Regions from separate parts of the Homo sapiens genome. Here regions 1, 2, 3, 4, 5 and 6 are each reported to be linked to region 7. The links are microRNA targets in miRTarBase. Many come from high-throughput screens and were not tested one by one. Region 7 holds a microRNA gene; each other region holds the end of a gene's coding sequence. Distances are from middle to middle.

Region 1 (4,068 bases), not on the chromosome of region 7:
TGGGTTAAGGCAGCACAAAAGAATAATTTAAAAAAATAGTTCCCTAGAAAATAGATCCTGAGAATAAAAATATATAAACATATATACATGTACTTCCAAATGTAAAAATGAAGCTTGTCATGTAGTAAAAGAAAAAACCCAGCTGCACAGAAAAAACTTTAATTAACTTAAATAAGAGATTTGTTAACAACAATATGCCTTAAAGGCTAGAAAGACAGAAAATACTAGGGAAAAAATGCTTTTAACTAGCAAGAATATAAGGCATCAAACCAAACTAGAAGGTAAAGTGGAAATAATTAAGAATGAGTTTCAAAGAATGACGGACAAAATGTTTTAGAGAAGAACACAATTTGGCAGAATGACTACCTGTATCTAGAGCATATTTTGAAAGTGGAATCAAACAAATTCAATACTTTTTTCACACAGGGTGTTTCTTGCTCTGCCTCCCAGGCTGGAGTGCAGTGGCAAGATCATCACTCACTGCAGCCTCGAACTCCTGGGCTCAAGTGATCCTTTAGCCTCAGCTGCCTAGTAGCTGGAAGCACCACACCCAGCTAATTTTACTTTTTGTAGAGACGCGGTCTCATCATGTTGCCCAGGCTGGTCTCAAACTCCTGGCTTCAAACAACTCTCCTGCCTTGGCCTCCCAAAGTGTTGGGATTACAGGTGTAAGCCACCATGCCTGGCCAATTAATACTTTATATAAAAGTAAGTAAAGAGCTTAATTTTTCTAAATTTAAGACAAACATGCAGATTGAAAGGCAAGCCAAAATTAAATATTGCCAAGTCATTTTAATGATCAGAATTAGAGAATCAAGTGCAATTACTAGAGTTAAAGAAGTCAAATACTTTTCAATTTGAAATCTTATCTGAGGGAGAACACTATCTGATTACTTTTAGGAAGCAACTCAGAGGTCATACTGACCTTTTTTTTTTTTTTCTTAAGTATTTCTGAAATTTAAAGAAATAAGAATAGACTGGCTAAATTTTCAGGTCATTTGCAATTTTAAATTTTCTCATCATAAACTGCTTCAAGCTGTTTGATCACTTCCACTGATTACTACACAAGAAATAATTTGCACAATTTCCCTTACTTTTATATCATTTACATTTAAATACAGCCAAAAAATACCCATGAAAATCTAAGAAATGTTCATTTCTAAAACTAACAAACAAAATCAAACTACAAGTATTAAAGTGCCCACAAAAACATTTTGGAATACCATGGAGTTGAGGCAGGGAGTAACAACTCTCAAACTACTTTTATTTAATCTTACTCATATTTAAGAATAAGTTATCTTCAACAGACCTAATCTAATTGTGGAATCATTTCAAGGTATTTTGAATAATCATATCATTTATAGATATCAGAGCAGAACAAATTTTGGATTAAGTAAAGAACTATAATTATACTCTTAGGACATCTGCTGATGACAGAGGTTTCTCTGACACCAGTGACAAAGTAATATTTTCTGGGACCATTACAACATGCCTAGACAAATTAAATTTTTTAGCTTTATAACAAGAAAGCTCATAGAGTACAATTTTTTGAAAAATTGGTTAAATAGGTTATGTCACAGAGGAAACCTAATTTGCCTCTCTGCCACGGAAATTTTTAAATAAGCCAATAATTTAACATTATGAGATCTGAAGTAATTACTTTTCTATACGGCAAGCTCCAGCCCAGCCACCAGTACCTCCTTTACCATATCCAATGAATATTTTAACATGACTTTCCTGTAATGGTCTTCAGCTTTAAATGGATAGACTCTGACATCGATAATTCCTTAAAGACGTGCTTATTCCACAAGCTGTTCTTGCTTTTTCTGAGGACATATATATGTATACAAGCATTTTTAGATATTAATCATTTTTAAGCTTTTTTACTTAAAATCAAAAGTTTCCTTACAGTATGTTTCAAAGATAAAATCACATTACATTATTGGGGAAACTACTAGTTAAGACTCTAAAACGCACACAAGGCTGAGTGCAGTGGCTCATGCCTGTAATCCCAGCACTTTGGGAGGCCAAGGCGGGCAGATCACCTAAGGCCAGGAATTTGAGACCAGCCTGGCCAACATGCTGAGACCCCATCTGTACTAAAAAATACAAAAAAAAAAACAGCCAGGCGTGGTGGCGCACGCCTCTAGTCACAGCTACTCAGGAGGCTGAGGCATAAGAATCACTTGAACCCAGGAGGCAGAGGTTGCAGTGAGCTGAGACAGTGCCACTGCACTCCAGCCTGGGCGACCGAGCAAGACTCTGTCTCCTAAATAAATAAATAAAATGCATACAAAATAGTTGCAGTAGTACCTGCAGATAGATACAGGGATTAAAGGAAAAGGAATCCTTAGGAAAATTCTTTATCCTATCTAGAGTACCTCTTAAGCTCCCTCTGCTGGTTACCATTTAAATAAAGTAGGAAAAAATGTTGACCTTTTTTCTTTGAGGAGGTGATGGGAGATGCAGGATGAAGTCTGAAATTGATAATGTTACGGCTAAAATTGAAAGGGAGATTCTCTTAAAAGGGGGCTAAATCTAACTGATGACTATCTTCTGTAAGAAGGCTTTAAAAGGATTTCTAAACAGATTGGGGGAAGAGCGACTGAAAATAAGGGGAGTGATTACCAAGTTTGAATATGTTAATCATTAAATTGATATGCCAAAATGCAAAAGCATTTAATATAAATCAACTATAAACGATTATGACTTAACACTAGAAAAATTAAGAATTTAAATATATTTCACAAACTTCACCAGAACAAAAAACTTTTATCACACTATTTAATCTACTTAGTTTCAATATTAAGGTTTATTTTTTCTTCCAGATTGAAAGTAACAATTTAAATAATTATCAGGATATAGAAACAAATATCCATTCAGATAAAACATTACTGCTTAAAAGTGGCTAAGAAATATTTTGCATGTAATAAATATATTTCATGTTTAGGTTAACAGGCACCATCTTGAGAGCAGTTTGTTTTTTTTTTTTAGCTAATAAATAAATTACATTCAAGAAAACAAGGTGTTTATATCTGAGTATATCATTAAATGTTTTTCTTCATATAGCACCCAAACTTCAAACTGTCTAGAAAGTATCTCCTAAAATATAACTCATACCTTAAGTAATAAAAATAAAGGCCAAGAAAAAAAATCAATTTAAGACAAAATTTACAGTTTATATTCTTAATTCCCCATTCAATAAAATATCGATTGCCAATTTAATAAAAGTAAATGAACTGTATATATGCAATCTGTTAGCACTGAAAATCTGAAATATATATTTTTAAAAATCACTCTTTCTGACAGTATTTAAAATATTGCATCTCTGGTGGCAAACCTGAAAACAATCAAGCATCTTATTACCCTAGTTTTCATACCTACCCCATACCCCATCACTTTTTATCCTTTAACATCCATCCAGCATTTTTGTTGGTTTTTTTTTGTTGTTGGCAAATACACTTACTTATATCCCAAACACAAAACACTGACAATACTCCTTGGTAAACAAGGAAATCCCAGAACAGTCCAAGCCTACACAGCTTTGCTCCCGAAGTGTGGCACAGGCTAAACGACAGGCGAGAAAGAAACAATCGATGGCCCTTATTGATGCAGTCAGAATGCTCCTGAGAGTCCATAACTGTTTGAGAATTTGCTGATGTTATCCTGACAGAAGTTTCAGCAGATTTTGCAAACAAGTATCAGAGAATAAGTCTTTGATTGATAATTTTTCTATTTATTTCTGCCAAGGCGACTGAAAACACGAAAGCCTTTTCATCAGACAGGTTAGCATAGATGTCAATTTCCTTTTCCTGTTTCTCTGTTAAAAGAAAAAGGGAAAGTTTAATATAAAGGCAGTAGATGCAGTAAATTTAAATTTTTTAAAGCTTTCAAGTATTTCTTTAAATGACAGTATTATATATAATACTACAATATACATTAAATGTTACTATGCTACTGAACTAAAAAGTTTTTTAAATTATACAAAGGAGTTACTGAAATGAAGATTAAATGAAGACAATATTTATTTCTATACACAGGCACTCTAACAGCTACATAATTTTTCTA
Region 2 (4,068 bases), not on the chromosome of region 7:
GGTTTCACCATGCTGGCTAGGCTGTTCTTGAACTCCTGACCTCAGGTGATCTGCCCACCTCGGCCTCCCAAAGTGCTGAGATTAAAGGCGTGAGCCACCGCGCCCAGGCTAATTATTTTATTTTATAGCATGCTTTTATTTCCAGGAAGAGTCCAGGCTTCTCTTTTCCCAAAAGTTCCAGCAATAGTCCTGTTGTCAAGGTTTATGCTTGAACCAATCACCGCGCCCAGGAAAACAGAATGAGCCTAGAGAGGAATGGTAGGGAGGGAGTGGCTGTCAGCCTCTTCCTAACCACGCAGACTAAGAATAAGGGAGGGTCTCCCAAAAGAAAATGGTGGTGCTGCCGGGCGCAGTGCCTCACGCCTGTAATCCCAGCACTTTGGGAGGCCGAGGCTGGCAGATCACGAGGTCAGGAGATCGAGACCAGCCTGAACAACATGGTGAAACCTCGTCTCTACTAAAAATACAAAAATTAGCCGGGCGTGGTGGCGCGCGCCTGTGATCCCAGCTACTCAAGAGGCTGAGGCAGGAGAATCGCTTGAACCCGAGAGGCCGAGGTTGCAGTGAGCCGAGATTGCGCCATCGCACTCCAGCCTGGGCGACAGAGCGAGACTCCCTCTCAAAAAAAAAAAAAAAGAAAGAAAGAAAGAAAGAAAAAGAAGAGAAAATGGTGGTGCTATTACCAGAAAGAAAGGATGGATACTGAACTGGCAAAAACAGATGTCTACTATGATGGGAGAATCCCAAGACCCAGTCAACTCAGGGAAAAGACACTGAGCAGTTACCACAGGCCTGACACTCTGCTACCCTTCTCCCCTGACAGACAGCAGTGGCCGGCGCCTGTAATCCCAGCTACTCGGGAGGCTGAGGCAGGAGAATCGCTTGAACCAGGGAGGCGGAGGTTGCAGATCGCGCCACTGCACCCTAGCCTGGGCGACAGAGCAAGACTCCATCTCAAAAAAAAAAAAAAAAAGTGTGAGTGTGGATGAGGGAACTGAGGCAGAAAGAGGGAAAGTGACCTCCTGCCCATCACACGGCCAAAAAGAGAAAAAACCACACTGGGACCCCGGCAGGCAGTCTGGCTACAGAGCTTGTTCCTGTAGTCCTGGCCCTGGGCTAGGGCTCACATACGTGAGCTGAGATCTGGAAACCAGCAGCATCTAGTTGATGTTTGAAAACAAGAGATGGGCCGGGCGCGGTGGCTCACGCCTGTAATCCCAGCACTTTGGGAGGCCGAGGCGGGTGGATCACGAGGTCAGGAGATCGAGACCATCCTGGCTAACACGGTGAAACCCCGTCTCTACTAAAAATACAAAAAATTAGCCGGGCGTGGTAGCAGGCGCCTGTAGTCCCAGCTACTCGGGAGGCTGAGGCAGGAGAATGCCGTGAACCCGGGAGGCGGAGCTTGCAGTGAGCCGAGATCGCGCCACTGCACTCCAGCCTGGGCAACAGAGCGAGACTCCGTCTCAAAAAAAAAAAAAAAAAAGAAAAGAAAAGAAAACAAGAGATGGATGAAGTCACCCGAAGAGCAGTGATCACCAGCACTTACGGGGCAAGCAGAAGAGACAACCCAGTATTATGTCCCCAGTAACTGACACACTGCAGGTACTCAATAAGTATTTATTGAATTAATGTAAGAAGGAACAACCAGAACAGTATAATAGTAGGCAAACCAGGTGAACCACTGTTTCAAAACTAAGGGAGAAAAAAGTGCAAAAGAGGGGAGTGGGAGAAACGCGGTGGCTCATGCCTGTATCCTAGCACTTTAGGAGGCCTAGAGGCCTAGTGGGGAGGACGGCTTGAGCCCAGGAGTTTGGGACCAGCTTGGGCAACACAGTGAGACCCTGTCTCTATAGAAAAATTTTAAAACAACCAGGTGTGGTGGTGCTCACCTGTAGTCCCAGCTACTTGGGAGGCTGATGCAGGAGGATCATCTGAGCCTGGGAGTTTGAGGCTGCAGTGAGCCATGATCCCACCACTGCACACTGCACTCTAGCCTGGGCAACAGAGTGAGACTGTCTCAAAAAAAAAAAAAAAAAAAACCAAAAGAGGGGGGTGGTCAACATACCATATGCTGAAGAGAGGTCAATCTCAAGTCTGAAAAGTGACTCTGGATTTGGGAAGAAGTCATTGGTGATGATGAGTTTCTTGGGGGTGTACTGGTAGATTTTTAACAACCAACTCTCCAAAAACAAATGTATCCATGTATATACATCTGCGCCGTGCACTCCTGCCTTGGCGACAGACCAAGACCCTACCTCAAGGAAAAAGAAATACAGTTCCTATTGAATACCATCCTGAGGGCAACCACCATGTGCACAAGACTGCAGATATTTACTGATGTGCAATGTTTCCTGAGAAGTGAGGATTAAAGTTATCAAACGACAAAAAACAAAGAGCCCATTTGTATTATTTCACTGCCTAAATTCCAGAAAGCAACAAAAACCAAATCACAATTTTCAAGAACAAACAAATTTAGCAAGACTGCAAAATAGACAAACAGCAATAGCAAGACTGCAAAATAGACAAACAGCAAGGTTATCCCAGTCAGAACTTCATAGCTATGTTTGTGGATATCTGCTAATCAGCATAACACAAATGTAAGTGATCGTCAGAAAGAATCAGACAGGAGCAATCAGGGTGTTGCAAGTCCTGATTACGCAGAGACGTTAATCACGTTTCATGCATCTCCAATCATCATGTTCTAATCTGCCCTCCGGAGGAGGAACAGGTAAGGATTATCCCACCTGACGATACAGACAAACAGCCGACATTCTGCACTCAGTGAAAAAGATTCCGTTACAAGCTAGGGTGAGTTCATAACGCGCTGGTATGAGCAATCCTATTATTTAGCGTCCTTCCAGTTGTTTTGCCATATTAGCTCGCACATTTTTTTAAATTTTTTTTTCATTCGGCTGCCGAAAAGGAATAAATTACTTCTTCCCAGAATGCTCCGATCAGTTACGTGCCGGACGTTCTAACTGTACGCACTTTCTATTTACATATCTCCGCCCACTCCCTTCCGCCAGGCACCTACCGTAGTAACCAAAATAGAAGCGATACCAAGTATCTTACGGTCTGCAGGACTAGAAAACAGCGTTGTTTTTTTTTTATTCAGTAGTTCAGCCATCTCAATTGTCCCCTAAAACTGTATATAAGTCTTAATGTTACTACAAAACATATTTTATTACAAAGCACTAAATACAATGCGGATAATCCCAGACTCAAGACGTAATTATTCCAACACATATCCTCCAGCAGAAGCAGTTTCCGAGGGGAAAACCGAAGCCTATGCCTTCCTTCTTCCAGGAATACGAAGCGGCCCTTGCCCCTGTAGGCTTCGTCCTTAGGTTCCCGTCATGAAGGTAATCAGAAGGGTTTCTTTTTCAGCCCAAAGACGGTGACGAATAAAGCCATTTCAGTGACAGCTGGAAGGGCACTACCAAGGCAAGTGGTAGATTCAGAAACCCTTTCAGTATAAATACCCAAATCTCCAAACCAGAGACCCCACCTCTGAAAGTGTAGGGCAGGTGGCATGGGGGGTAGGGGATGAAACTTTAAAAGCCTACAGGATGTTGAGTGGATCTGGTATCTCACACATGGAGGAAAGGGCTGGGTAGGGGAAAAACCTTCAGGTTTAGGGCCAACCTTCCTCCCTCATCCCCAAATATTGGATGCTACCACACCTGCAGAAGACAAAAATGTACCAATACGTAGTGCACTCCCAACGCTCGAATATGAAGAAGGACAGGGCCACGGATGCACTACAGTGAGCCCCAATGGCTTGGGAAGGCACGAGATTAAGGAAAGTCTTTGGATCGACAGACAGTGATGGGTCAGAAAAGGCCAGTGGTGGGGCTGGCATCTGCATTCAGGTTCATCCCTTGCTCCCTCACCATGTTTCAAGGGCTAGAGTCAGCAGCTCTGACTTCTGAATTTTAGGACAGTCATGTGAGGAGAGACCAGAAGTGACTGCACAGATCGGACCTCAGGCTACCCTACCCCTTATCTGTGGGCCAGCCTGGATCCTTCAGATGAGAGGTAAGAGTAGGCTCTCCTTCTGCTATG
Region 3 (4,068 bases), 74 Mb from region 7:
TATCAATTGTTTTAGTCCACATACTACATGAACAGGTATTAATAAAACCTATTCATTTTTATGGAAAATTTCCCAATTGTTTGCTATTTAAAGGAACCCAAATAATTTGACAGTTGTTGCAAAATATTTTTAAAGTATACTTTTATAGGCATGAGAATCTAATTTCAATAAATTTGAGCACTTATAATCAAATTAGCAAAAAGTATTTCTACTATGTGAAACTGCTCCAGTTAATCAGGTGAATATAATTTCTATATCCTCCTAGGTCAATATAGTACATTTTAATACAATATTGTTTGGGAGCTTTATGTTCAAGTAGTGAGGTTTTATTTTTTTAAATGGCAGCTTATTTGTAAACAAAATAAAAGTGCTAATGATCTTTTAAAGCTTTCATACATTTGTTCAAAGGCTTACACGTTTTTAAACTTTATTCAAATTTCATCAAAAATGGTAGATAAAACAGTTTGATTGCTCAGATATTAGTGTTTACAGGCCATAATAATATGAATAGTATGTACATTAAATACTTAAATGGGTTTTGGTGGGGCTTTAATCAAAGACAACTGTCCTTCCAGAACTAAATTAAATTACATGTTTACTAGCATTAGAATTATACTGTTTTTTTAAGTGACTGATAGTCCGGTTCTGTAATATTTTGTCACTAATATATCATGATTGGGGAAAAGGAAGGAAAGAAGCTTTACATAATAAATAAAAGATAATACACTAGTAAAGTATTCTTAGACCTAGTTGAAAAGGATGATTTCTAATCTAATCATCTACCAATTCATTTATTATGCTTCCTTACACGTAATGTGTTATCTTTGTTCTAAAAAGACAAGGCACTTCTCCATCTTCTTCTAAAGTTTTACTACAGTGGTCTCTTTCCTAAATTAGCATTAGGAGGGAACAAAGAGTGGAGACATATCTGGGATGGAGTTAATAAATCTGTAAATAACACTTGCCCATATTAGTTATTAGGAATAAACATGTTATTGGCTTTTAGGACAAGCTTAAAAATAGCCAGTTGGACAAATTTATGAAGCCAGAATCTTGGGCCAAATGAGAAACATTGGAACATTAATTTTAAAAAACAATTTTAGCTTGTAATCTTAAAGCCTTGTGAGATTTATATACTTTGGCAAATACATGTTTTGCTCTGGAAACTATCACAAGTTTCATAAAGGAATATTATGTAACAAAGAAATTCAAAATTACTTTCTTCAGTCTAAAAACAACTTTCACAAAAGTATGTTACTAACCTAATGGAAAATTACAAGTATGTTCTATCCTAAGCATAACAGAAAAAAGGCTCCATGGGGGAGGAATTAATCACCAGTGTGCTGTGTCATTTTAGCATTCACTGCAACCAATTTCACTGAAAACAAAGCAACCCCGCCCAAACATTACAAAATACTCAATTGCTAATCAGCCCCCTGCAAAGGAAAACAGTTTGAAAAAGTAGTCATACAAGAGAGGAAAAAAATTGGTATTTTTTTGGGTAGTTGAAGAAACTAAGATGAGTCAACCAGCATAGCGAACAATAAAATAATAAACTCGAGTGATTAGAATAGGCTTTAAAATTAAGTTTACACATGCTGACAAGTGGTTTTTGTGACAAATGCTACTGTAACTTGTATTATACTGTGTCATTTCCAGATATACTGTATTCCCATTCTCAATAATTGTTTCATGGAAACAATTCACCACTTCATGCTGTTCTTTGAGCAAAACCAAGTGTGATTTATACATGGCAGAAAAAGTTCCTATGACCATCATATGATCAAATTCTAAGGTTATAGAAAAAAATAAGATTTCTAAGGATCAACACTTAAAAGCAATTTTCTATCAGTGAAAATGAGATATTTTGTATTATGCTGAAAATCGATTTTGGTATTAAAATATCACAGTTTGAAGCATAAATTTGATAACATTAGCTGGAACATAAACCTCAGATACAATTTTTCCCGACCTTAGCTACAAAACAAGACATTTGGTATACATTTTCAGAGGCTTCTACCTTGTCTATAAAAATACACCTTCAATTTTGCAGCAGGCAAACACATAATATTTGCAGGCATACACATTACTAAAGGTTAGAGATTTGGGGTGACTGAGTGGCACAGAGGTAATGGGGCACAGAGGAAGGTGGAAAAGTGTTTGTGCAAACAATTATAATCACATATAAAATAGTGTCTTCTTTTTCCTCTCTTTTTTAAACTGGTCAAGGACTGTGGATTTCAAATTAGGCATAAATTTTAAGAGTGGCTTAAAAAGGCTTGACCTTCTATGAAGAAATGATTGTTCACTTCACTGAGATGAATCTTGCCTAAAAGGTTTACTAAAAGCAGTAAGAGTAAGATGACAAAATATTACTGAGCCCTAGACACTTTTATTTTTAGCACTATGAATTACAAATAATGCCTACAAACAGGCATACATTTGCAGTTGAATTAATGTGATATAAAGCTTTCATTATACTGAATTTTCAAATTCTAGTTGTGTGGTGCTAGCAATCATTTTAATTGTGAAGAAAAATAGAGAAATATGGACCAAATAAATGTTACATATGTGCTGAATTTATAAACTAAAATACTTTTGTCTAAACACTTGTCTTTCCTCATTAATGTTTTATAAAGGATCATCAAAAACAGAATTGAGAATTTTTTTTCAATTATGAATCAGCTGCTATATACTCTTTAGCTACAGCTTCTCAAATAGTTCTCTCTCTTTCTCAAACTAGAATATCAGAACTGCAGAAAGGTGTTAGTGGCTTTCAAGAGGGTCTAGATACCTTCTGAAGATGTCTGAAATCTCAAAATACTCCTTAAAAGTCATAATTGTGTGTATTTTCAAAGGAAGAAAAGGCTAATAAATGCAGGATAGTGAGACTGTGAAATGTGTCAGATGTCAAATAGTTTTTTTGTGGGAAGGAGTAGACAACAAAATGGAAATTATTAAACGAAATGGAAAAATAAAGGTCATGGTTTCAGGTGCAATACAGAATATCTGAGATAATAATTTCAATTTTAGTCCACTTGTTACAAAGGGCAACCTTGCCCTACACCTGAAATTCTTAACATACTCATTATGGCCTTGCCATAAAACAGCATGTTAGCAGTTTCTACATTCAAAGGGATGCTTGCAAACTTCATTCATATTAAAATCTATGTAAAATTGTTGGCAATACAATAAGAGTAATGTTACATTATGTAAACCATGGCATACCACATTTTACATTATGCAAAGAGGCAATATTTACAAGTCTTTAGGAGTTTAAATATTTTATCCACTAACATAAGTGATAAAGCAAAGTGCAGGACAAAACCAGTGCCATTAATTGCATGTCCTTTAAAAGCATGTCCTTTAAAAGCAGAGTAAAACCATTTCTAAAAGCTACCAAAAGCTTATTTAAGTTTGTCCAGTAAGGGATTACAGAGCATCAAGTAGCCTAGAAAAATGATGCGAGTTTAGAAACAATGAGTATGAAAATTATAAGGCAGCATGCTCAGAACAAGTTTTTGTTTTTTAAACACCAACACTGATGATTTATCTTTAATGGCAACTATCTATATATGTATATGCACACACGCATGTGTGTGTATTTAAAATTGAGAGTGCAAAACACAAGCCTCATTGAAAGACAAAAAAGATGTGCAAATTTTCTTCATAAACCAACACAAAAGAGCGAGAAGAATATTCTACCATTATAAAGAATAAGTTGAACACAGCAAAGGAGACCATCTTCATTCCAAATCTACAAGGCACTAAGGGTAGGAAATGACAGGTAACACAGAAGTGACTGGATAAAACTCCTCAGTCAGGTCGGAATATGGGATATTTTGGTAAGAATTCTATTAGTATTACCTGCAAAATAAAAACAAGAATATATTTACAAAATATTTTTCATTTAATATAACTTATAAATAACCCAGAAAGTCTATAATCATTTTTCATAGGACAATATTTCAATCCTGAACCATATAAAGTAAGTGAAATACATGAAAAAAATATGTAAAGAACTTAAACCACAAGTTGTTATTAGATTGGCAATTTAAAAATTAAGCT
Region 4 (4,068 bases), not on the chromosome of region 7:
CAATGTGCTCTGCTCCCACCACCCAGAAATCAACCCAAACACATAAAAACTAGGAATCTATAAGCATCTCTTGTATCAGCGGAAAATAAATCAGGAGATGAGGGCACCAAGTAGAATTCACGACTCAATCAATTGTCTTATCCATTGAAGGTACTTTAATTTTGCAGTTATTGATTAATTAAAAAACACAGTTGTTTTCAGCATTTCCTAGCTACAGTAGTGCATAGGAAATTCCATTCTAAACAAAGAAGTAATTAATGAAATAACAACACACCTTAACATTTTACATTGATAGGTTACAGTTTACAAGGTGCTTTCACATACATTATTTCATTTGATTCTTACAACAAGCAGAAAAAACAGTGGGAAAGATTTTTTTTTTCAGGCTTACAATGAGTATTTTCAGGCCAATGGGCAGTTAACACAAGAATATACCAAGAATGAGACAGCAATACCCATAAGCCACAATATCGTTTTTGGTAGGTTGACAGTTTGATTCAACTGGGTATTCAGCATCGGTGAGTGAGAAAGGAATTAGGACAGACACCAAGGCTCTTATGATATTCAAATAATTTTAAGAACACTGTCAGAGATAAGAAGAAAGATGCCCTAAAATATATTGCCTTATTGAGACTTACTTCAAAGCAATATACCCTTCAAAATATCAGATAAAAAGACAATCTTGTCATCGACTGTGAAAGTTAGGAGGAATCTTACAAACTGCCTAATCCAGTTCTTCCATTTTACAGACAAGAGAACTGAGGCTGAGATCATACTGATAGTTTTCCAGCCTGAAATTCAGATGTCTTGACTTTCAGTCTAGGGCTCCTTCTTACACAATGCCATCTCTTAATTATTTACTGAGCATAACATAATATCTTCTGTTTCAAATATGTAATTTTAGGTTAAATACTGATTTATGCTACTTACTTCTTATTCAAGTTTTTATCTTATTCTTGGCTAAATTGTGGCTGAAACTGGGAATGTTACATACTTTAAAAATATTCTAATTTAGTGTACTTGATTGGTCAGAAATTGACTCCCTTGACATATTTGCTCATGACAAGCTTGCTCACGGCCTTTAAATAGAGAGTAAAATGGAATGGCTGAATAGCCCTCAAAACCAACGTATGTCTAGGGATCATCTACCTAAGGTAGATTCTACAGCTGGGCACTAGTAATTTCATAGAAAAAAATATTTTTTAGAATTCATAGAAATCTTTTTGATTACTGAAAACTAAATTGTAATAATCAAATTGTCATCCCCATGACTTATTAAAATAATTTTACAATAATATACAACAAAGCTACCATAGAATTTGTAGTTTACATATAGAACACATTGGTCAGCATGTTCTTGGGTCTAAATGAAATACAAGAAAATTAAAATATTTTATACGAATGATGTTTTAAATTTATTAACATGACGATATGCCTTTGTTACACAAAACTTGCTAGAGCAGAGTATTTTATTTTTTTCTTGCACGTTTTAAATATAGATGGACCAGTGAAATCAATATCAGCATTTACATGACATTACCATGCAGAAACACTTGATAACCGAAAGACATATAGATTGGTAGAAAGAACATCTCAGACAGGTTTTTTTTATGTCTTCAAAGGTTTCACCAGGGTGTGGTACAGATGAAAAGAAGTGGTGTTAATGACCTACCTGCACCGATAATAAAGCAAATAGAATGATTATATACATTAAGATCAGCTTGATTAAAAATAAATTTTATATGCAGGTAAATTGATCATTAAAATGAACCCAGTTTAACTCTTCTCGTGTGTTGTTTTAAGGTAGGTCACTGAAACGCAGAGATAAAATCAGATGGGGAAAATTAAAAGCAAAGAAAAAAATAGCAAAACAAGTGGGTTAAGCCATGGATTCTCAACAAACACTGAACTAAATGTGCAAAAGTGCTTGAAATTTCCACCTGACAGCAATGTTGTTAAGTCAGTTGGCAAAAAAAAGTGTAGGAAAAAAACTAACCTCTCAAATACCAACATTGTATCTGCATGATCGATCAGACATTCTGTTTACTGAGAGAACAGAGGTTAGAAATTATGAAATATCTGAAAATATCATACCTCAAAATTAAAATACAATTGTGGCAGTTTTATACACTTTGTTCCCTTTCCTCATTGATGAGGCATGGGATGAAAGCAGAAGTTGCAGCAGTGCCCCTACCCTAGGCTCACAAATATAGTACACCACAATAATTAGCTGGAAACAACTTCTTTTTAACGGTTACAAAACAAAACAAATGTAAACCCTCATTTAAATATGAATACCTCTATATTGTTTCCAAAAATCAAGCCATTTTTGACTTTGCAAAGTATAAGTATTTATCTAAACCAATGTTCTTTTTAGTTTGCTTATTTTCCTTTAAAAAGTTTATGATGAGGACTATTAGAGAAAATTTAAAATTTGTCACTTTCATTAATCATGTTCTATTAAAATACTGGCTAAAATCCTTAAGGAACAGTTAAGGTTTAGAAAACTTAGAACTCTTCTCTAATACCTACAGAAATGCTGGTACCAAGTGAGAGAATCTGGGTGATGATCCATATCATTAGTTTTTCCTGCTGAATGAGACACGTTTGTCACACTACACAGGCTGGTCACTTCATTACTCAAGGAGAGGAGGATATAAAAGGAGGGAAAGGGAACTAGAACCTCTGATCTACAGCCTTCCAAATTTCTGGGTCTAGCTGTACTGTATTAGTCTACCAAAATTTATTGCCAGAATAGTGAATTCCAAGAAAGTTAGTCTTAATTTGTATAAATTTCCTTGGTGATAAGACAGTCTATCTTCAAAAATTACCAAGAGTTTTGGCAAAACCAAGTCTGAGCTACTCAAAGAAATAATAATTATTAGAAAGTTTATCTTCAAGCCATTGACCAACAACAATATTGGCAATAACTACTGAAAGCAACACTTATCCTTCCCTTCAAATATCACGTAGCCATAACACTGCCCATCTGAAACACCAACAAAATAAAATGGAGCACTGTTTAGAGAAAACCAATGAAATTGGAAAAGGAAGAAATGGATATAGGAGAGGAGAAAGACAACCCAAAGAGAAGTAAGAAAGTGGTCTAGTACTGTGTTATGGCACAGACAATGCTTGCTTAGCGGTGCCTTGTTACATAGGTGGATGCAGAGTGCGCACACGGGATGATGGCAATAAAGACCTCACTCAGTCGTTGGAATGAAGGAACTAGGTAACTGCTTCAACAAGGACGGTCTCAGCTCTACCTTATCTCTCAACAGAGTGCAAACACTGAGTGTGAGCTCAGATGTCATCTTGTTCCTCTTTAAAATTCACCAAATTCTTTTGCACATTTTTCTGTTATAGAGACACGGATATCTTCTTCTTCATAGTCATCAAAGTTGCTGGTATCTCCAGAGCCTCTAAACTTTGGTATGAATGGAGCTTCAACCTATAATTGAGAGGGAGAGAAAAATAAGAAAAAGGAAAAAAAAATTCCTGAGAGTTTCCAAACACCAAGAAAAATAAATTCCCACTGTTATTACACGGTGAAATCCTTAGATGCCATTAGGTTCCTAAAATATAATAGTGCTAGAAGAAGCAGCAAGCAGTAGGTTAGCTATTAACCTCAACATTTTGATTCAAGGAAGTATGCAGGTCAACAAAATACTTAAGAAATTTCTGGGATAAGAGGAGAAGCCAAGATGGCCGAATAGGAACAGGTACGGTCTACAGCTCCCAGCGTGAGGGACACAGAAGACGGGTGATTTCTGCATTTCCATCTGAGGTACCAGGTTCATCTCACTAGGGAGTGCCAGACAGTGGGCGCAGGTCAGTGGGTGCACGCACCGTGTGCGAGCCGAAGCAGGGCAAGGCATTGCCTCACTCAGGAAGCGCAAGGGGTCAGGGAGTTCCCTTTCCTAGTCAAAGAAAGGGGTGACAGACGGCACCTGGAAAATCAGGTCACTCCCACCCGAATACTGCGCTTTTCCCACGGGCTTAAAAAACGGCGCACCAGGAGATTATATCCTGCACCTGGCTTGGAGGGACCTACGCCCACGGAGTCTC
Region 5 (4,068 bases), not on the chromosome of region 7:
TGACTTCCCCCTTCTGGCTGTTTCCACCTTGCCTCGAAGCGATGTAGAGACATGTGGGGCTGCCTGAATAGCCTAAGGGGTGTCACGCCACAAGGCAATGAAATATGAAATTGTATTTTCTACCACCAAATAGTACCCATCCAAAGAGCACCCTGCCACCCACATTTACATTCCTGGGCAAAGGACACAGAGAGCTGGGAGGAAAGCAGGGGCCCCTCCAGCGGGGGCAGCCCTCCCTGTGCGCCGCTGCCAGGCTGTAGAAGCCCCGGCGTCCTGCTCCTGACACCCCTCCTACCCCTGGGCAGGTGTCCAGCGCAGCCCCGCAGAGCTCCAGGGTGGCCAAGTGGATCTCACCGGGGCCACCTGCCCCTACACCCTGTCCAACATGACCTACAAGGAGGAAGACTTCGAGCGCCTGCTGCGGCTCAGTGACTACAACGTGCAGACCAGCCAGGGTGCCATCCTGCAGGCCCTGAGGACCGCGCTGAAGCACCGGACTCTAGAGGCGAGGCCTCCAAGGGCACAGACCTGAGGTTGCTCAGAGGCTGCAGGACCCTCCAGGGCCTGCGGGCATAACCTGATCTGTAGCTGGGCTCAGCCACAGGCCTTCCTGGTTGGAGTTCTGGGCTCTCCCAGGCCTGGGTGGCCTCTGTAGCTGGTCTCACTGCCCAGAGGGAACTGCACACACAGACTTCTCTCTTACGTTCATGGCTGGCTTGAGATGAGTTGAAAATAACTTCGCCAGGCCAGTGTGTAGAACAGCTGGTCCAACCAGACAGACTTTCACACCACAATTACTTCCATGCCTGAGCAGGATAGATTTGAAGTGCAAGCCGGAGGCAGCAGATCAGGAGTAGGGACAGGAAGGACAGGGGATGCCTGACCTGACAGGTGGCTTCAGGCCTCGGGAATCACAAGACATCCTGAACACATTGCCTCCTCATCTTCTTCCTGCTCCTCCACCTCCTCCTCTCCTTGTCCTTCTCCTCTTTGTCCTCCTGCTTTCCGTATCCAAGTCTTGTACTTGTTTAAATTTATTCCTAAATATTTTATTCTTTTTGATAAGTGGAGTTACTTTCTTAATTTCATTTAGATTATTCATTGCTATTTTATAGAAATACAATGGATTTTTAAATGTTGATCTTGTATTCCGCAATCTTGCTGAAGTTGTTTACCGGCTCTAATACTTTTGCGGATTTCTTAGAATTTTCTGTAGACAGATCATGCCATCTCCAAATAGAGATGGTTTTACTTCTTCCTGTCTGATCTGAATGCCTTTTATTTATTTTTCCCAATTGCCCTGAGCAGTACAATGATGAACACACGTTTCAAGAGCAGACATCTTGTCTTGTTCCTGACTCTGACAAGAAAGCATAAGTCTCTCACCATTTAGTGTGATTTTAGCTGTGGGTTTTTCTTGGACATCCTTATCAGGTTGAGAAAGTTCTCTTTTATTTCTAGTTTATTGAGTGTTTTATGATGAAACGGTGTTAGGTTTTGTCAAGTGATTTTTCTGTGTCTATGGGCATGATCATGTGGTTTTGTCGTGTATTTTATTAATGTACTCTATTGCATTAATTGGTTTTTGGATATTAAACCAACTTTGCATTCCTGGGGCAGTTTCCATTTGATTATGGTATATAAACCTTTTTGTTTATTGCTGGCACATTTCTTTTTCTTTTTCTTTCTTTTTTTTTTTTTTTGAGACAGAATCTCATCACACTCTGTCACCCAGGCCAAGTTCAATGGTGCAATCTGGCTCACTGCATCCTCAACTTCCTGGGCTCAAGTGATCCTTCCACTTCAGCCTCCCAAGTAGCTGGGACTACAGGCATGTAACACCATACTTGGCTAAATTAAAAAAATGGTTTTTTGTAGAGATGAGGTCTCACCATGTTGCCCAGGCTGGTCTTGAACTCCTGAACTCAAGCAATCCTCCTGCCTCAGCCTCCCAAAGTGCTGGGATTACTGGTGTGAGCCACCACGGCCAGCTGCTAGCACATTTCTTACCTCCCTCATGCAAGGGTGCGTGTACACATACACACACACACACACCTGGCCCCAGGTGGGGGTTGTAGTGAGAGCTTCGGGACAGACCTTGGCTCAGGGACTGCCCTCATCTGATGTCCTCTCTCAGCTTCCTTCCCTGTGCCTCTTCTGCATTTGGCTTTATTTTGATTCTTCACTTTTTCCCTTTATCATGGACTCTTATTTTTTTAACAGTGATATGGGAATTGACTAGCTGTTGTGTTTTATTTTATGCTGGGCATTTTACATTATTCCCCTTAATTCTCACATTTGCCTAATGTGTTAGGTAGAATTACCGTCTCCTTGTTATCAGTGATGAAACTCAGGGTTGGGAAAGGAACAGAACAAAGCATCCTGTGACTCGTCTGCAGGTCCCTGGTGTCCGCCTGATGCACACAAACTTCACAGAGCACCTGTGTCAGGCAGGGTCACCGCGCCCCCGTGACGCAGCAGGACAGAATCAAGGCCACTCCATAAATATGCCTGAGCATGGACAAAAAATGAGGGCACTGTGAAACCATAAAAATGGCCAAACAGTGCCCTCTCCTGTTTCACGTGAGAGACTGCGGTTTCTCTACCAGGCTTTTCGTCCCTCCCGTTCTTCCACCTCCTGGATAAAAATTGTGAAGATCCTCAATTATAGACTCGCCCCACTCCCTGACAGCACCCAATCCACAGCAACACTTTGCTTCCTTGAACATTTCGTAATGTCACCCTACAAACGCCCAAATCCTTCAATAAGCACCCCCCCACCACACACACACACACACACACACACACACACACTTACTGAGACTGCACTGCCTCCTAGTATACAGTCTTCTTAGTGCAATGGGTACCAGTTAACTCAAATTTGTTTGGCTACTGGGCTGTTCCTGCTGGCCTCTGGCTGGTAGGCGTCCACAGGGATTAAGTAACTTGCTAACCTCAAAGGTGGCAAATCCAGGACTGGAGCTTCTGACAGCCACACCTCTCTGTGTCTTTGGGCACTGACTTTGTAACGTGCCCTATTCGTAGTTTAGAATTAACCTCACCAAAGAGAGGTCCAGTCTCTGCCCGTGGCTAGTGGGAGGTGACCTCTGGGTCCTGGAATGTCCTGTCTGACAGGAGTGTCTTTGTTTGCTGGGGGGCTTTGGAGACTAAAGGTCGGTCACACAGGCAGCATCTGATCAAGCCTCAGTAAAGTCTCTGGGCACCAAAGTCTCAGGTAGACTTTCCTGGTGGACAACACCCTGTGCGTATCCTCACACATTGCGGCCCAGAGGAGGCAATGCTGTCCAGAACCCCAAAGAGAGAGGACACCTCCCTGGAAGCTTGCAACTGGACCCCTCCCAGATTCTGCCCTAAGCCTCTCTTCCTTTGGCTGGTTTTAATTTGTATCTTTTCATGATCATAAAACTGTAATCATAAGGTTAGTGCTTTCCTGAGTTCTGTGAGTCACCCTAGAAAATTACTGAAGCTGAGGGTGGTTGTAAGCACCCCCAAATTTGCAGCCAGCTGGTCTGAAGTGAAGGTGGCCCTGGGGACTCTGAACTTGCGGCTGGTGGCTGAAGTTGGGGCAGTCTTGTGGGGACTGTTCCCTCGGACTGGACAGTTTGGTGACCTCTGCTGCAGAGGTCAGGCGTCCCAGAAGATGTGGTGGTCTGGAGGACTGTGCTCCCAACCTCAGGGTTTGGCCAACTGCCGGCACGGATGCTCTGGAGAGTGAGCCGGCATGGTAGAAAAAAAAAAAGACCCTTTCCATTTGGCGAACTTTCAATAAAGCCAGCCAGACAGCCAAGGAGAGTGGGCTGGGCTGAGGCTCAAAGCCACACCTGGCATGTGAGTGTGGATGTTTATCTGTCTCATATACCCGCCCCCCACTAGCTGCTGTCACCCCAGCCCCTGACTACCCAAACACCCGGAGGCCCTCTCAGCCCCACCCTGACCCGGGTGAGGACCGTGACTCCAGCAGCTGTCAGGCCCCCACACAAAGGCATCTATGTAAATCACACAGTGCTCTTCCTGCAGCCTGTGGGCCCTTCCTGGGGCCAGCTCAGA
Region 6 (4,068 bases), not on the chromosome of region 7:
ACAGGGTCTGGAACAGCATCTGATAGTGGTGAATCAGTACCAGGGATTGAAGAACAGGATTCCACCCAGACCACCACACAAAAAGCCTGGCTGGTGGCAGCAGCTGAAATTGATGAAGAACCAGTCGGTAAAGCAAAACAGAGTCGGAGTGAAAAGAGGGCACGGAAGGCTATGTCCAAACTGGGTCTTCTACAGGTTACAGGAGTTACTAGAGTCACTATCTGGAAATCTAAGAATATCCTCTTTGTCATCACAAAACTGGACGTCTACAAGAGCCCTGCTTCGGATGCCTACATAGTTTTTGGGGAAGCCAAGATCCAAGATTTATCTCAGCAAGCACAACTAGCAGCTGCGGAGAAATTCAGAGTTCAAGGTGAAGCTGTCGGAAACATTCAAGAAAACACACAGACTCCAACTGTACAAGAGGAGAGTGAAGAGGAAGAGGTCGATGAAACAGGTGTAGAAGTTAAAGACGTGAAATTGGTCATGTCACAAGCAAATGTGTCGAGAGCAAAGGCAGTCCGAGCTCTGAAGAACAACAGTAATGATATTGTAAATGCGATTATGGAATTAACAGTGTAACCATCTGAAAGCAACTTTTTTTGGTGTCTCAAAGGAGTAACTGCAGCTTGGTTTGAAATTTGTACTGTTTCTATCATAAATAAAGTTATGACTTCTTGCTGGAAAAAGAAAAGAAAAGAAATGCTCTCTTTTTTTGGTCTCCAAGTGCCGTACTCTCCGGATCTACCTTCTTCCCTGGCTTATTCTTCAGTTTCCTTTGTGGTCATCTTTTCTTCTACCCAGTTCTTAAATATTAGTGCATCTCAGGGGTCTTTCCAAGGCCTTGTGTTCTTTTCACTCTGCACACTCAACATAGGTGATCAGATTCATTTCTCTTGCTGATGATCCTCAAATAGTTTCAGTCCCATCTTTGTCCTAAGACACAGATTTGGATATCCAGCCACCTACTTACCGTCTTTCCTTGGATACTCTCCCGGCACCTCAATCACAGGATAGCCAGAAGTATACTCATCATCTCTCCTCTACCGGATGACTAGAGCTCCTTCTCCAGTGTCCCCAGCTCAGTGAAAGTCACCATCATACCCTTCATTCCCAAACCAGCTACTCGATACTCATCCTTAGCTCTTCCCTATCCTTTAAAATCTCTGGCACCCAGTAAATCTTCAAGTCCTATTGCTACTGCCTCCTGAGCATTTCTCAGATTCATGCACCTCTCTGTGTCTCTACTGCCATCATCCTCTCCCAGATTTTCCTAATAACCTACTAAACCGTCTCTCTACCTCCAGTCTCTCTTCTGTCCGATCCATTCTGCAACCAGAGTTGCATATCCCTTCTTTAGTGTATGAGCAACTGAAATAGTCTGAACTCTTCATGTGGCTTATTAGGCCTTGTATGGTCTGGCCTCTGACAGTTTTCTGCTATTCCCCTAAATGCTCTGGTCATACTGAACGTCTTTCAGTTCCTGCAACATCACACTCCCTTGCCCTCAAGCGTTTACACATGCTGTTCCCTCTACCTGGAACATTCCTAGTCATCTTTCAAATCTCGGCTTCAAAATCATTTCCTCAGGAAAGTTTACCCTAATCCCTAGACTAGCTTAGGTCTCTCTGAAATATGTTCTCATTACGCCTCTCTTTGCTGTTTAGTATTTGTCTTCTTAATTGGATGAAGTCTCTGCAAGAATAGTGGCCATGTCTTTCCTATTCACTGCTGGGTTCCTAGCCCAGTTCCTATAGAGTAATAGGGACTCAGTAAATAATTGTTAAGCAAATGAATGAAAGAACAAATTGACAATAGCTAGCCCTCAATAATTGTTTGTTGGATGAATAGTTTTAAAATCAAATATACTATTAAATACAACTTGCTGTGCAGAGGAGAGTTGCCCTCAGCAAACTCACTGCCATGAGATATGTTATTCCAGAATCTGAAATTCTGGAGTTCTTTTTGGAATTGCCTTCATAACATGTGATATGTTCTCCTAAACACTCTAGATAGTGGCAAATACTCACACTTTGAGATTGGATTTTATTTTGGAAGCAGCAAAATCATTCAGAGCCAAAATGGGTGATCAAGCTGGGTAACTCCACCAGAGGTGAAAAATTAATTATGTGTGACTATAAATTAATGAGACTGAGTTTTCTATATGGCTCATAAACTAGGTCATAAGGCAATTCCAATAAAGAAGTTCCAAAAGTGTTTTGATCTAATGCAGGATTGTTAACAATGTTTGTATAGCTTCCCAAGGGAGCTCCTTTGTAGGAGGTATTGCTCATTTGATGTATACAGTCAGACATTTTTTAAAAATCGTGTTTCTTTTAGACACACCGTCTATGTACATATGAGCTTTCTTCAAGCTTCAGCAAAAGCATAATATAGTAGAGACCATAAATTAGAAGTAATTGTTACTTATCATCTTCATTGTTGTGAATACTTACAACAATATGCAAATTATTGATCATCATAATTTGACCACAGGTCACCACAAAACAAAGTTACTTTAGCCCACCTACTTCAACTACCTCCAACAAAATGTTATGAAATGTAGATAATCCTTTGCCAACTAAGATAGTTCTCCAGGGTACCCACCACTGTGAGATTGGGTTGGCTCTGTTCACTGAAGTTAATGAGTGAGTCCAAGGTTCATGGCACAGATGGTGCCTTCACGCTCTTGTCAGAAGCCTCGAAATATGTATTAATGGTCACAAGGGAAATCGTGGGCAAGAACAGAACTGCAGAAATAAATCTATTAAAAGCAGCAATAATAGATCTCACTTAGATCCCCCACAATGTGCTAGAAATTATGCTAAGCTAAGCACTTAATATGCAGGTGTTACTTTTCATTTTAGAACACAAAGCTAAGAAAGGTTGATGATACTCATTATCATAGATCTCTCAATTAAAAGAGCTAGACTGAGAACTCATGGTCTACATGATTCCAAAGCCCATGTTCTTTCCACTTCACTCAAATTAAGTAATGAAGTGGAACAAGGCTACTCTCATATGCAAAAATGGTACATTTTTAGATCCCAACTCTACCACTGTAATTCTTTTTGTGCCCATTTTTTCAGCAGTGTCTCAGTCTTCTGGCAGCTTTACCTTCTTCAAAATGAGCATCAAAGTTTTCTGTTGGGTACATTTCCCTCAACTTTTTACTATAATGTTGAGCATTTTCTGGCCATGGTCTTGACATTCCTTGAAGAGCTATGCCAACCTTCTAACTTCATTGCCCCCTAAGTTGTTACTGCCCATCCTTCTCAGATGATCTTCCCCGTGGAAACTAATTTTCCATGATTTTTACTTCTTGTAGAATGGCAGGCACGTTCTTGAAGGAAGGCACCAAGCTTCCCTATGGAGAATTTTTCTTGCCACTTGATAATTGAGTCTGTTATGGGGAAGGGTGGGGTGGGGATGAGGGTCGATGGAATATTTCTAGTTACTAAATCTGATATCTGTATCTTGTTCAAGTACAGACTCCAGTGTGGATCTGGACCTTGCTACTGGACTCTGTCAGTCTCTAGGGAATGCATCAGCTGTCATAATATTTTTATCATTTCTCTGTCTTGATTATGCCATTATGTAGATGGAACCAAATTCAGTTACCACCTTTAACTAGGTGCCCTTGTTGAGGTTCTTGGAGAGAAATATGATTCGTCTTGTGTAGGTAGGCTGGCACATTATCTCTGTTTTCTGGCTTAATAGTAGCAAAAAGACTATGACACAAGAGTCTTTAGTGCCCAGTGATAGGGAAGCATCCAGCTAAATAAATGAGTAAAGTCTTGTGCCATGAAAATCTGTGAATCCATTTTTCTACCTGTTTACAAGTTAGCATGCTTTAACCTCATCTCCTTGTGCGTTGGACTTCATAGAGTTTATTTTAAGGTCAGTAGAGTCTGTTTCTAGCTCATCATTAATTTTAATTCTTTGTCTATCCCTTGCCATTCATCATGATTTATTTAATTAGTATTATAAGCATCTCTTGAGTCACCTCTGCTCATAGAGATCTTTTCTGGGCCCGAAAAATAATATAGAATTTTATAAGCCATCCTC
Region 7 (4,068 bases):
TTAGGGTACATGTGCACATTGTGCAGGTTAGTTACATATGTATACATGTGCCATGCTGGTGCGCTGCACCCACTAACTCGTCATCTAGCATTAGGTATATCTCCCAATGCTATCCCTCCCCCCTCCCCCCACCCCACCACGGTCCCCAGAGTGTGATATTCCCCTTCCTGTGTCCATGTGATCTCATTGTTCAATTCCCACCTATGAGTGAGAATATGCAGTGTTTGGTTTTTTGTTCTTGCGATAGTTTACTGAGAATGATTTCCAATTTCATCCATGTCCCTACAAAGGACATGAACTCATCATTTTTTATGGCTGCATAGTATTCCATGGTGTATATGTGCCACATTTTCTTAATCCAGTCTATCATTGTTGGACATTTGGGTTGGTTTCAACCATTGTGGAAGTCAGTGTGGCGATTCCTCAGGGATCTAGAACTAGAAATACCATTTGACCCAGCCATCCCATTACTGGGTATATAACCCAAATGACTATAAATCATGCTGCTATAAAGACACATGCACACGTATGTTTATTGCGGCATTATTCACAATAGCAAAGACTTTGAGGATTTTTAATGAGACAAGCAAAATTACAGGAAAACCAATGGGATAATTCAGACAAGGATAACTCACCTCTGAAAAAGAGGAGAAGTGAAAAGCTCTATCATTGCTCAGCCTAAAAATCGGCGTGTTAATTAGCTGTTCATGGTGGTGCACAGCTTTAATCCCAGCTACTCAGGAGGCTGAGGCAGAATCACCTGAACCCGGGAGGCGGAGGTTGCAGTGAGCCAAGATCACGCCAATGCATGCCAGTCTGGGCCAGATTCCGTCTCAAAACAAAACAAAAATCTGCATGTTAATATCTCACTCAGGGCAGGGTGAAAAGGGGAGTGCTAGGGGCTAGAAGTTGCATTGTTACTTGGCATAAATCTTGGTGGCCATGCGAAGGCATACACCTATAGGGACTTGAATAAAAACGGCATGAATAGGGAACATTTGGTCTGGGATGCCACATTCAGCCATTCAGCGTACAGTGCCTTTCTCAAGGAGGTGTCGTTTATGTGAACTAAAATATAAATTTCACCTTTCTGAGAAGAGTAATGTACAGCATGCACTGCATATGTGGTGTCCCTAGGGATGGGGCTGTAGCTGCGAGCATGGTGATGCCTGTTTTGCATCCTGTGCACCCACTCCTCAGTGCTGGGCTACTTCAAGGAACTTTTTGTGCCTTCTAGACGACTACACATAAGAACTGTGGACTCCTGAGAAAACGCATGCACTTTGGTTCCTTAAGAATTTATCTACTTTTGCCAAATGAGGCTTGGCTCAAATAAGAAATACGTTGTATAGAGGCCACAGCCATTCTTCGTCAGCTGAGACATTTTACTCCAGATTCCTCAATTCTCTAAACTCTTTTCACTGATCAACTAGTCATCATTTGCAAGGATTGTCCTTTAGTGCTCCCAAAAGGCTCTCCTGCCTCTCAGGTCCCTTCATTGCTGATCCACAGTGTCCATTTTCTGTCAAAGACTAAAACATTTTCTCATTGACTGTTAAAATACCTTTCAAAGCCTTCAGTCACCAATTTATGAAGGGTTAAGCATAGTCCACCCAAGAATATTTCACCCTTTTTAATTATCTTTTTTCCCCATTTTTTAAGAGTATATTTGAAGAATGGAAGGGTATGACAGAATTGATACTCAAGAGATATCTCCTAGGCTTCTCTCCCCATTTTCTTTTGGTGACGCTTAACTCTTAACCTAATGGAGAGAAATAGAGGGAAATAAACACACACACACACACACACACACACACACACACACACACACAGAGAGAGAGAGAGAGAGAGAGAGAGGAGAGAGAGAGAGAGAGAACATGCAAGAGAAAGACAAGCACCAGACTATGTAAGGCCATCTGCAGCATTAATCTAGTATACATGTTTGGGAAGTAGGTTATAAATAAGCTATTTATATTGTGGAAATGTGTAAAAAATGTTATAAATAGTAAGTGATTAATACAATTTTGATTCCAACTGAAACAGAGGCTACAGCATAAACACCGAAAGGGAAAAACTATAAAAAACAATTACTATATGGTTACAGGCAGGATTTTGGTTTATGTTTTTTTAGATTCAGAATGTATGAATATGTATAAGACCATTAATGTCTGAAAGTAAAAAAAACAGTTGAAGTATCTTTTCCATAATGAAAAACATTGTAATAATAGAATACATACAATCTTTTTGGGGTGGGGGCAACATTCTGAACAGTAAAAAAATTTTGTCACTTTGCAATACTGTATGTACATAGAATTTTCCAAAGTGATAACTGTTTTTAGTATATAATTTCTAAAACTGTATTATAGTGATGCATGTTTACTTATATAACTTTAAGTGATATCTTAAAATGAAATAAAAGAGAATTTAGTTGTTATCATACCTCTGTTATGATTTCTCAAAAGAATAGTATATTTACTGGTATTTGTGTTTTTTTTCAGTGAAATACTGTTTTGTATTACTCAGCCTTTTTTCTTCCAATTTATTAAGGTTTAACTGACATAAAAATCATATTTAAGGTGTACAACATGACGTTTTGATATATGTGTACATTATGCAATGATTAAATCAAGCTAATTGAAAAATAAAATATGAACATAAAATATTTATTTGAAACTCTAAGAAAAAATTACAAGATCTCTGTGGTAGGCAGAGTAACAGCCCCCGCCCAAACAATGTTCACAATGTAACCCCTGAACTCGTAAGCATCATATTTTATTGTAGAAGAAAATTTGTAGATGTTATTAAATATTTTGAGATTGGGATTATCCTAGATTATCTAGGTGAGCCCAACATTATCACAAGGGCCCTTATACGTTGGAGAAAGGTGGTTAGAATGAGAAACATTGCAAAATACTATAGTATTGACTAGAGGTAGAGGTAAAGGCCATGAGCCAAAGAATGGAGAAAGTAACTAGAATCTTCTAAAGACAATCAAGTAGATTCTCCTCTAGAGCCAACAGAAGGAACAAAGCCCTGCCAATGCCTTCATTTTAGCCAAGAGAAACCTAATTTAGATTTTTGACCTTTAGACTCTAATATAATAAATTTGTGTTGTTGTAAACAACTAAATCTGTGGCAATTTATTACAGTATCAATAGAAACCCCAAAACATCTGTATGCTAAAACTGTAAATATACTAAAAAAAAATACTAATTAAGTGGCGAGGACTATCATATTTATGGATTGAAGGATTCAAATCTATAGACTTTTAGACTTCCATTAATCTCTAGAAGTAATACAATTCCAACCAATGTCCCAGAAAAATATTTGTAGACATTAGCAAGATGATTCTAAAACTGATATAAAAGGCGAATAAACTAGAATATCCAAAACAATCTGAAAGAGAATCACAAAGCTGGAAAATTTACACTTGTAATTTCCAGATTTACTGTCTAATTAGATTACCCAATGTACTGTGGTACTGAAGAAAGGATGGACAAATAGAAGGACCAGAAATATCCATATATGTCACCAATTCATTTTGACTAAGCTGTAAAGTCAATCTAATGAAGAAATGATAGTATTTAAACAGTAAGATGCTGGGAAATGTGAGATATATAAAAAATATGAACCTTGATCGTATTTCAAACCACATACAGAAATTAACACAATCTTAAGCCAAAACGTCAAACTATCAAATTGCATGAAAAAAATGAGAGAAAATATTTTTGACCATTAAATTATTACATATGATATCAAAATATAAAAATAAAATTTATTAAAAATAAATTGATAAAATAGACTTTGAAAAAATTAAGACGTCTTCAAATAAGACCACTGAGATAATAAAAAGGCAAATTACAGAATAAAAATATTTATCACATTATTGAATTACATATAACATATATCCAGCATAAATAACTACATATAATTTAGCACTCCTGTGTATACTAAGTATTTTACTAGTTACTTTGTAAAAATTATCTGTGTTTTAAAATGTCAGTTCTGTTAGCATGTGTTGAAGCTGTTTTGATCTGTGTTGTAGTCCTAGCACATGAAAAACCCTGG

What was found. Region 7 holds the annotated microRNA hsa-miR-513c-3p (UAAAUUUCACCUUUCUGAGAAGA, at 1,077-1,099, shown strand). A microRNA usually pairs through its seed, bases 2 to 8, with sites in the 3' UTR of a target mRNA and lowers its output. Matches are read on the target gene's strand: a 7mer-m8 pairs with bases 2 to 8, a 7mer-A1 pairs with bases 2 to 7 and ends in A, and an 8mer does both.
Region 1: the mRNA of C16orf87 is a reported target of hsa-miR-513c-3p. Seed matches in the 3' UTR shown: 7mer-A1 at 1,503-1,509, 7mer-A1 at 1,008-1,014, 7mer-A1 at 983-989 and 7mer-A1 at 732-738.
Region 2: the mRNA of TMEM107 is a reported target of hsa-miR-513c-3p. Seed matches in the 3' UTR shown: 7mer-A1 at 2,896-2,902.
Region 3: the mRNA of CHIC1 is a reported target of hsa-miR-513c-3p. Seed matches in the 3' UTR shown: 7mer-A1 at 2,253-2,259, 7mer-A1 at 1,920-1,926, 7mer-m8 at 434-440, 7mer-A1 at 169-175 and 7mer-m8 at 66-72.
Region 4: miRTarBase lists PRKACB as a target of hsa-miR-513c-3p. Seed matches in the 3' UTR shown: 8mer at 2,790-2,797, 7mer-m8 at 2,703-2,709, 7mer-m8 at 1,931-1,937, 7mer-A1 at 1,733-1,739 and 7mer-A1 at 1,411-1,417.
Region 5: miRTarBase lists PLA2G4D as a target of hsa-miR-513c-3p. Seed matches in the 3' UTR shown: 7mer-A1 at 1,031-1,037.
Region 6: the mRNA of NACA2 is a reported target of hsa-miR-513c-3p. Seed matches in the 3' UTR shown: 7mer-m8 at 637-643.

Annotation. Positions count from the first base shown.
Region 1 is chr16:46,799,251-46,803,318 of GRCh38, forward strand. It overlaps C16orf87 (chromosome 16 open reading frame 87), which reads right to left. Exons shown (of 4, transcript NM_001001436.4): 4 at 1-3,820. The coding sequence ends at 3,702. Among named protein-coding and RNA genes, the nearest start is that of C16orf87, 30 kb to the right of the region's middle.
Region 2 is chr17:8,170,834-8,174,901 of GRCh38, forward strand. It overlaps TMEM107 (transmembrane protein 107), which reads right to left. Exons shown (of 5, transcript NM_183065.4): 4 at 3,687-3,783; 5 at 1,624-3,439. The coding sequence ends at 3,370. It overlaps SNORD118 (small nucleolar RNA, C/D box 118), which reads right to left and starts at 2,755; the gene lies at 2,619-2,755. It overlaps LOC105371520 (a long non-coding RNA gene), which reads left to right and starts at 3,277. Exons shown (of 4, transcript NR_188261.1): 1 at 3,277-3,365; 2 at 3,943-4,041. RefSeq lists enhancers at 2,202-2,291, 2,772-2,951.
Region 3 is chrX:73,680,754-73,684,821 of GRCh38, reverse strand. It overlaps CHIC1 (cysteine rich hydrophobic domain 1), which reads right to left. Exons shown (of 6, transcript NM_001039840.4): 6 at 1-3,867. The coding sequence ends at 3,817. Among named protein-coding and RNA genes, the nearest start is that of CHIC1, 120 kb to the right of the region's middle.
Region 4 is chr1:84,234,563-84,238,630 of GRCh38, reverse strand. PRKACB (protein kinase cAMP-activated catalytic subunit beta) reads right to left here. Exons shown (of 10, transcript NM_182948.4): 10 at 133-3,451. The coding sequence ends at 3,326. Among named protein-coding and RNA genes, the nearest start is that of SAMD13, 65 kb to the left of the region's middle.
Region 5 is chr15:42,065,179-42,069,246 of GRCh38, reverse strand. PLA2G4D (phospholipase A2 group IVD) reads left to right here. Exons shown (of 20, transcript NM_178034.4): 20 at 306-2,238. The coding sequence ends at 532. Among named protein-coding and RNA genes, the nearest start is that of PLA2G4D, 27 kb to the left of the region's middle.
Region 6 is chr17:61,587,047-61,591,114 of GRCh38, reverse strand. NACA2 (nascent polypeptide associated complex subunit alpha 2) reads left to right here. Exons shown (of 1, transcript NM_199290.4): 1 at 1-694. The coding sequence ends at 582. Among named protein-coding and RNA genes, the nearest start is that of NACA2, 2.1 kb to the left of the region's middle.
Region 7 is chrX:147,186,748-147,190,815 of GRCh38, reverse strand. MIR513C (microRNA 513c) reads left to right here and starts at 1,029; the gene lies at 1,029-1,112. The region is part of intron 1 of LOC105373347 (periphilin-1); the gene reads right to left.